Homo sapiens: one gene and its partner. The protein of the gene in region 1 purifies or fractionates together with the protein of each later gene. This does not show direct contact. Each region holds a gene or a part of one and is shown on either strand. Other genes may lie near its edges.

Region 1 (3,578 bases):
TGAGGCTCAAATGCAGGGCCAGTTGCAGATTACTTACTCAGAGGCAATTTAAGGATTCAGAGTCTAGGAATAGCATGGTGGCCTCCAGTATCCAGGGCAGTGGCATTGATGGCAACATGTCCAGACTGTCTCATGTGGCCTCTGCTGTCCATTCTCTCTTGGCTTCTGCCCATTTTCTAAACCCAATCCCCCAGCCTCTCATCAACTCTGAGTTACTGATATCCCCCTAGAATTCCCTTGCTGTTTTAGATAGCCAGAGTTGGATTCTGTTGTTAGCATCCAAAATCATCACTGGCATGGTTAGGCACTATCATGCCCATTAAGGCAAGGAGGAATATTGAAGCCCAGAAGGTTAACTGAGTCACCCAGGATCAGACACCCTGCAAGGATGCAGAGCTAGATTCAAACCCATACATGGTTTTCCTCCAAGACCTGTGTCGTTAGCCACACAACACTATTGTATCAGTCAAGATAACAGCAAGACACCGCTGGCTCATTGAAACTGGGTAATTGAGGAGCATTTAATAAACATGTGCATAGAATTTAGGGAATCCAGTAAGGGGTGCTTCAGTATGCTGAGGCTGGCAATAGTGGTGGGTCATTCCCACTGCTGGGCCTACAGAGGAGAGGATGGAACAGGTGGCTGGACTTGGAGATGGGAGCTGTTTGCTGAGAGGCTTGAAGGAGCCTTCAGAGGGGAATGCAGCCACTCCTGCCACCACCTGCCAGGGAGGGAGCCCTGAGGACAGAAACCCTGATCTGACTGTCTCCCCACCCTCGGCTCTCCTCTCATGCTTCCCATTGGCTCAACCAGCCAGAAGCTGGCAGCCAGGGAGCCTGCTGGTTTAGCCACATTGGTCAGGTTCCCAGGCAGGATGGGGAGGATGGAGCATGGCGTGGCCTGTAAGTGCAAATGGGAGAGTATCCAGCACGGCCATTTGTCTTCCGATTTAGTGCATATAATATTTCAGTCACGTTTAATATGTTGGACTTAAATAACACTTGATCTATAATAAGTTAAGCACACAAGCATGCACTGGACCATGCAGTGGGTTATGTCTGGATGAATCTGTATGAATGTGTCATGGGCTTTGGTAAGGAGTGTAATGACTTTTTGGAAACAAGCTTGAGATCCACTAAGAGGGAGCTGTATACTAGTATACAGTAGGTCTGCAGGGGCCCTGGACTCATAAAGCATTTGCTTTATGCTCCAGGAGAATCTGATGCGGTGGCCTAAAGACCTCTGAAAAACATTGCCCTCATGTGTTCTGCCTCTCCTAGAGTGTATTTAATGATAATACCCCCTTGCCCTGGTCACTTTGTCAACTTCATAAACAGGAACAATGCTGGGATTGCTAAAGTGTGGGGTTCCAGACCAGCAAGCTCAGCATTATTATAAACACTGCATCCTGTACAGTCACTGCCTCTGAGCTGCTTGGTTCTTTTAGGTAGGAAAATAAATGCACCAAGATTAACAGCTTCTGGATCTAGTGCGTCTGCAAAGATTCTCACCAGAGCATCAGGATGAAATAAATGCCCACCACACACCTTCTAATGGGCTCAAAATTGCGGTTCAGAAATCATCTCTCTAGGGTCATTACCATTACCTGGGCAGGTTCTGACAGAGCAGCATTTAGGGGAATGGGGAAGTCCTTATGCGATGGAGCAGTCTGGAAGCTGGACCTCCCCGTGCAGGGAACTTTTTCCACAGAAGTGGTGCTCATTGTAAAAATACATTTACCTAACATGAGACACACGGTATGTGTGGAAAAGTATGATTGCTCTTGGGAACTGAGGATAATATCTGCCCTGGGCATCACTAAATTGGGCTGGAAGGACCCACCATCCTTTCCCCACCCATGAGGCCCATTTCCCTTTAAAGCTCAAAGTAGGAAATAACAAAATCCTGATTGAAATCTGTGGGAGATTGCAAGACAATCTCCCACAGAGATTGTCTCTGTGGTGGCCTGAACACCTACCTGCTTCACCGGGGAGGGCACTGGAGAGAGCATGGAAACTGAGGCAGGTGTTCCAGGAGCAGACTGAGAGAAGAGGAGGAGGGCAGAGTGGGGAACTAGGCAAGCACATGGGGACAGCCTCCAGAAGCCTCCCAGGGGGAGAGCTTTTACTCCACCATCCCTGACCCTTGTGTGATACAGGAAAAGAGGCATTTAGACACAGGCGGAACTCCTGGTTATTCTATTCTATATGGTTTTGGGGTCCTTCAGGTAAGGAGCGCTTCAGTTTTCACTCCTGCCAGTGGGCAGTGGCTTATTCATGTGGCCTCGTTCTAGTCACATACATTTCTGCCTTCACGGGGCTATTTTCAGGATCCAGCGATAAATGCACACAGGATGTCTGACATGGTCTGTTGTTGCTCTCCTATGGATCCCATCTCGGCCTGCCAGTATTTCCCCAGAAGAAGATACTCAGTTTAACTCTTTTCTCTGAGAAGGATGCACTTTCTCACCACGATGTCTTATTTCTCCAGGTTCCACAATCTTCAACACCCTTTTCTGGGAGTGTTGGAAAGAACCACACATAAGCATGAAACCCAAGTGTCTGATGCTAGAAAGAGGAAGTCCCAGCATGGGGCGAGCAGGATGCTTCTGTAGTGGGAGCTCTGTCCAGGTCAGGCCAAAATTGTATGGTCCAGGGCAAAACTGAGCAGGAGAAGTATCAGGTGTGCCTTCTGCATGTCACAGCCCCCACAAGAGAATTACGGTGAAAAGCATTGAGCTGTCTGTATTTCATGCCAACCCCAAGTGGCTGGTGGAATGAAGGACCAAGCATGTTTGGGGCTGTAACTTCTTTTCTGAGGCACAAATGCCCACCCAAGATTATTAGAGGAACGAGGGCAGTGGGCAGGAAGGTGAGACGCTGACTTTAGAAATAGCCGGTGATTACAGATTTAATTCATGTTATTAACTCCCTGCCTTTTACCTCCTCCCTCCTCCCTTGGCACAACTGCCAGATGGATGTGGCTGGAAGTCAGAGGACATTCTCGTGGGTTCGTGGGCCTAGGGTACAAATGACCTCAGCGTGACAGCAAACAGGACAGAGAAGACCAGGCTCTTACTCAGGAATCCACCAGCCAGGAGAATGACAATGTTGAACACCGGAACCCTGCGGGAGACAAGAGGCTGAACGCTACTGCTGGCAAAGTCTCTCCCACACGCACATGTTCCCTCTAGAAAATGCCTTCATGTCCCACTCTCCTCTGCTTAGATCCTTGCTCCACCTTTCCCGCACTGCCTGACCCTGTGCTTTTCAGTCTGTCTCATTGCCAAAAACTACTGATTAGAAACAATTCAGTGGAGAGTATAGGTCCCTGTCCAGGAGAGGCACTGGAGGGAGACAGTCGGGCTGATCAGCCCATCCTCCTCCCTGTGATGTGGTAGGGAGAGAGGACTCTGGCCAGGAAACCCGCTCTCTATTCTCAGTACCGTACCCTGCCTACTGGGATGGTCATCTCACCTCTTTAGCTCGGTTTCCTCACCTATAAACCGAGAAGAATCCACCCGTAGTGAAAATCTCATCATGAATTTTATAGATTTTGGCGAAATGATTCTAAGGTT
Region 2 (3,500 bases), on another chromosome or scaffold:
GACTATCTGAGTGACCCTAGGACCACCCAGACCCAGGGACCTTTCCACCACCGTGGGAGGTATAAGCAGCAAGAAAGACTGAGCTGCCTGGTGGAATGCGAGCCAGGAGTCAAACACAAGTTCCCTTGAAGGAAAGAATACATATATTTATATGTATTCTTTATATATATAAATAAATATATGTTCTTTATATATAAGTATATATTCTTTATATATATAAGTATATATGATGAAGATCAAGACATTGACTAATCTATTGAAAGTATCAATTGAGCTATCTTGGTATTTTTTATTGATCAGTCAATGTTTTTGTTGAAATGCTTTAAAAAATAGTTGAATGGGCTGGGCACGGTGGCTCACGCCTGTAATCCCAGCACTTTGGGAGGCCAAGGCAGGCAGATCACGAGGACATGAATTGGAGACCAGCCTAACCAACATGGTGAAACCCTGTCTCTACTAAAAATACAAAATTTAGCTGGGTGTGGTGGCGTGCATCTGTAATCTCAGCTACTCAGGAGGCTGAGGCAGGAGAATCGCTTGAACCCGGGAGGCGGAGGTTGCAGTGAGCCGAGATCATGCTACTGCACTCCAGCTTGGGCGACAGAGTAAGACTCCATCTCAAAAAAAAAAAAAAAATAGTTGAATGGGCAAGGTGCGGTGGCTAACGCCTGTAATCCCAATACTTTGGGAGGCTGAGTCGGGCGGATCACTTGAGGTCAGGAGTTCAAGACCAGCACAGCCAACATGGTGAAACCCAGTCTCTACTAAAAATACAAAAATTAGCTTGGTGTGGTGGCAGGTGCCTGTAGTCCCAGCTACTCAGGAGGCTGAGGCAGGAGAATGGCATGAACCCCGGAGGCGGTGGTTGCAGTGAGCCGAGATAGCGCCACTGCACTCCAGCCTGGGCAATAGGGTGAGACTCCATCTCCGAAAAAAAAAAAAAAAAAAAAGTTGAATGTTTTAGAAAGAGTCCTAACAGCAAAGAAAAACATACTAGGCTTTGGTCATTATGTCTGTTTCTGAGGTAAATCAAGCTATTTATGTGTGGGTATTACCTAGTGTCAGCATGCTTTAATTACAGGTCCAGTGCCCCAGAGGACATACTCCTTGAGAACTACCAGCTAACATTTGTGGTTTTGTTTTGTTTTTGAGACAGAGTTTCACTCTTGTTGCCCAGGCAGGAGTGCAATGGAGCAATCTGGGCTCTCTGCAGCCTCTGCCTCCCAGCTTCAGGTGATTCTCCTGCCTCAGCCTCCCAAGCAGCTGGAATTACAGGCATGCACCACCATGCCCCGCTAATTTTTGTATTTTTAGTAGAGATGGGGTTTCACCATGTTGGTCAGATTGGTCTAAAACTCCTGATCTTAGGTGATCTGCCTGCCTTGGCCTCCCAAAGTGCTAGGCGTGAGCCACTGCGCCCAGCCCATTTGTGGAGTTTTAAACACTTTACATTGTGTTACCTCATTTGGTTATCTCAACTACAACAGGCAGTGGATGTACTACTATTTCTGCTATTTACGGAAGAGGGAACTGAGGCACAGATAGGCTCCTTCCTTTGCCCAAGGTCACATAGCTAGCTACTGGCAGGGCCAGAATCTTAGCAGTGTGCCTCCCACACCGATGCTGTTAACCACCGTCCTGCGCGGCTAGCCTTCTGAATGCAGGACAATTTAATGTGGCAAATGCCATGATGTGTCAACTATATATCACAGAGCATATAAACTCAGGAGGAAAATGAAGGTAGTTGGAGCTGAACGCAAAATGGATGGACAGCTCAACTGCAAGTCTTGACTATAAATCATTAATTTTTAAATACAACTGACTGGAAAAAATGCAAATCACAAAATGACAAAGCTCTCTAACTTATAGCAACAATCCTCACCCAAAGCTGCTGACGGGAGGCTCCTAACTCTCAAATACATTTCCTCTTTTTTACAGTCAGTCAGCACCCAGAGTTCATTATTAAGTTTGTTTCACAACGCCATGGCTGCTACATGCACCCATCCCTGTCTTCCCCCAGCTGTGGGGCAGGTCTCAGGACCTTGTGCACCAGCTCACTGGGGAGACACCAAATGGTAGAAACTTGGTCTCTGAGCAGCATCGCCTTTGCAGCAGCTTCTCCTCACCTCCTCCATGCCTCGATTTCCCTGCCCCATCATCCCATCAGCTTCACTGTACTGCTGGAGTAACTTCCTACTTAAAAATTATTGATAGGCCAGGCACAGTGGCTTATGCCTGTAGTCCCAGCACTTTGGGAGTCCAAGGCAGGTAGATCCCTTGAGGTCAGGAGTTCAAGACCAGCCTGGCCAACATGGCGAAAGCCCATCTCTACTAAAAGTACAAAAATCAGCTGGGGGTGGTGGCGTGCACCTGTAATTCCAGCTACTCAGGAGGCTGAGGCAGGAGAATCACTTGAATCCGAGAGATGGAGGTTGCAGTGAGCTGAGATTGTACCACTGTACTCCAGCCTGGGCGACAGTGAGACTCCGTCTCAACATAAATAAATAAATAAATAAATAAATAAATAAATAAGGTCAGTTGCAGTGGCTCACACCTGTAATCCCAGCACTTTGGGAGGCTGAGGTGGGTGGATCACCTGAGGTCAGGAGTTCGAGACCAGCCTGACCAACACAGAGAAACCCTGTCTCTACTAAAAACACAAAATTAGCCAGGCGTGGTGGCGCATGCCTGTATTCCCAGCTACTCGGGAGGCTGAGGCAGAAGAATCACTTGAACCCAGGAGGTGGAGGTTGTGGCGAGCTGAGATTGCACCATTGCACTCCAGCCTGGGCAACAAGAGCGAAAGTCAATCTCAAAAATATATAAAATAAATAAATAAATAAATATAAAAATTATTGACAACTTTTTTTTTTTTTTTGACACAGGGTCTCACTCTGTTGCCCAGGCTGGAGCGTGGTGGTGCAATTTCAGCTCACTGCAACCTCCGTCTCCGGGGTTCAAGCGATTCTCATGCCTTGGCTTCCCAAGTAGCTGGGATTACAGGAGTGAACCACCATACCCGTCCCATATTTCAACTCTTAACATTAGTTCTAACAGGGCTGGCAGGTACCACTGTCGGGGCACATTTTGGAAATGTGTGGAGTTTTTTTCTTTTTCTTTTTTTTTATACTTTTCGGCCCTTACTACTCAAAGTATGCTCTTACTAAACAGCAGTGTGGGCATCATCTAGGAGCTTGCTAGAAATGCCAAATCTCAGGGCTTACCTACTGAACCAAAATCTACTGAACTAGAATCTGCATTTAATAAGAATGCTGGATGATTCATATGCACATTAAAATTTATAAGCACTGGGCTAGAATGTACTTATTGAAATCAATATTATTTTATTACAATTAGTTTCTTTTTATTTCCCCTTTATATTGCTGTTAGGGCCCTATATTGATTTTTAAAAATGTGTGTAGATGGGTTAATTATCATGAATTTCATTTCAAGGTACTAAAAAATATGTTTCAAAATATTTCCTATGTGAGAGGCAATGG

What was found. The genes of interacting proteins can lie anywhere in the genome.
Region 2: the proteins of TREM1 (region 1) and SEL1L3 purify together in Homo sapiens (affinity purification with mass spectrometry; one large-scale study listed by BioGRID and IntAct). This does not show direct contact.

Annotation. Positions count from the first base shown.
Region 1 is NC_000006.12:41,273,105-41,276,682, forward strand, and holds the end of TREM1 (triggering receptor expressed on myeloid cells 1 isoform 1 precursor), read right to left. Parts: intron 3,127-3,578; coding exon 3,021-3,126; 3' UTR 501-3,020; downstream 1-500.
Region 2 is NC_000004.12:25,751,489-25,754,988, forward strand, and holds part of SEL1L3 (protein sel-1 homolog 3), read right to left. Parts: intron 1-3,500.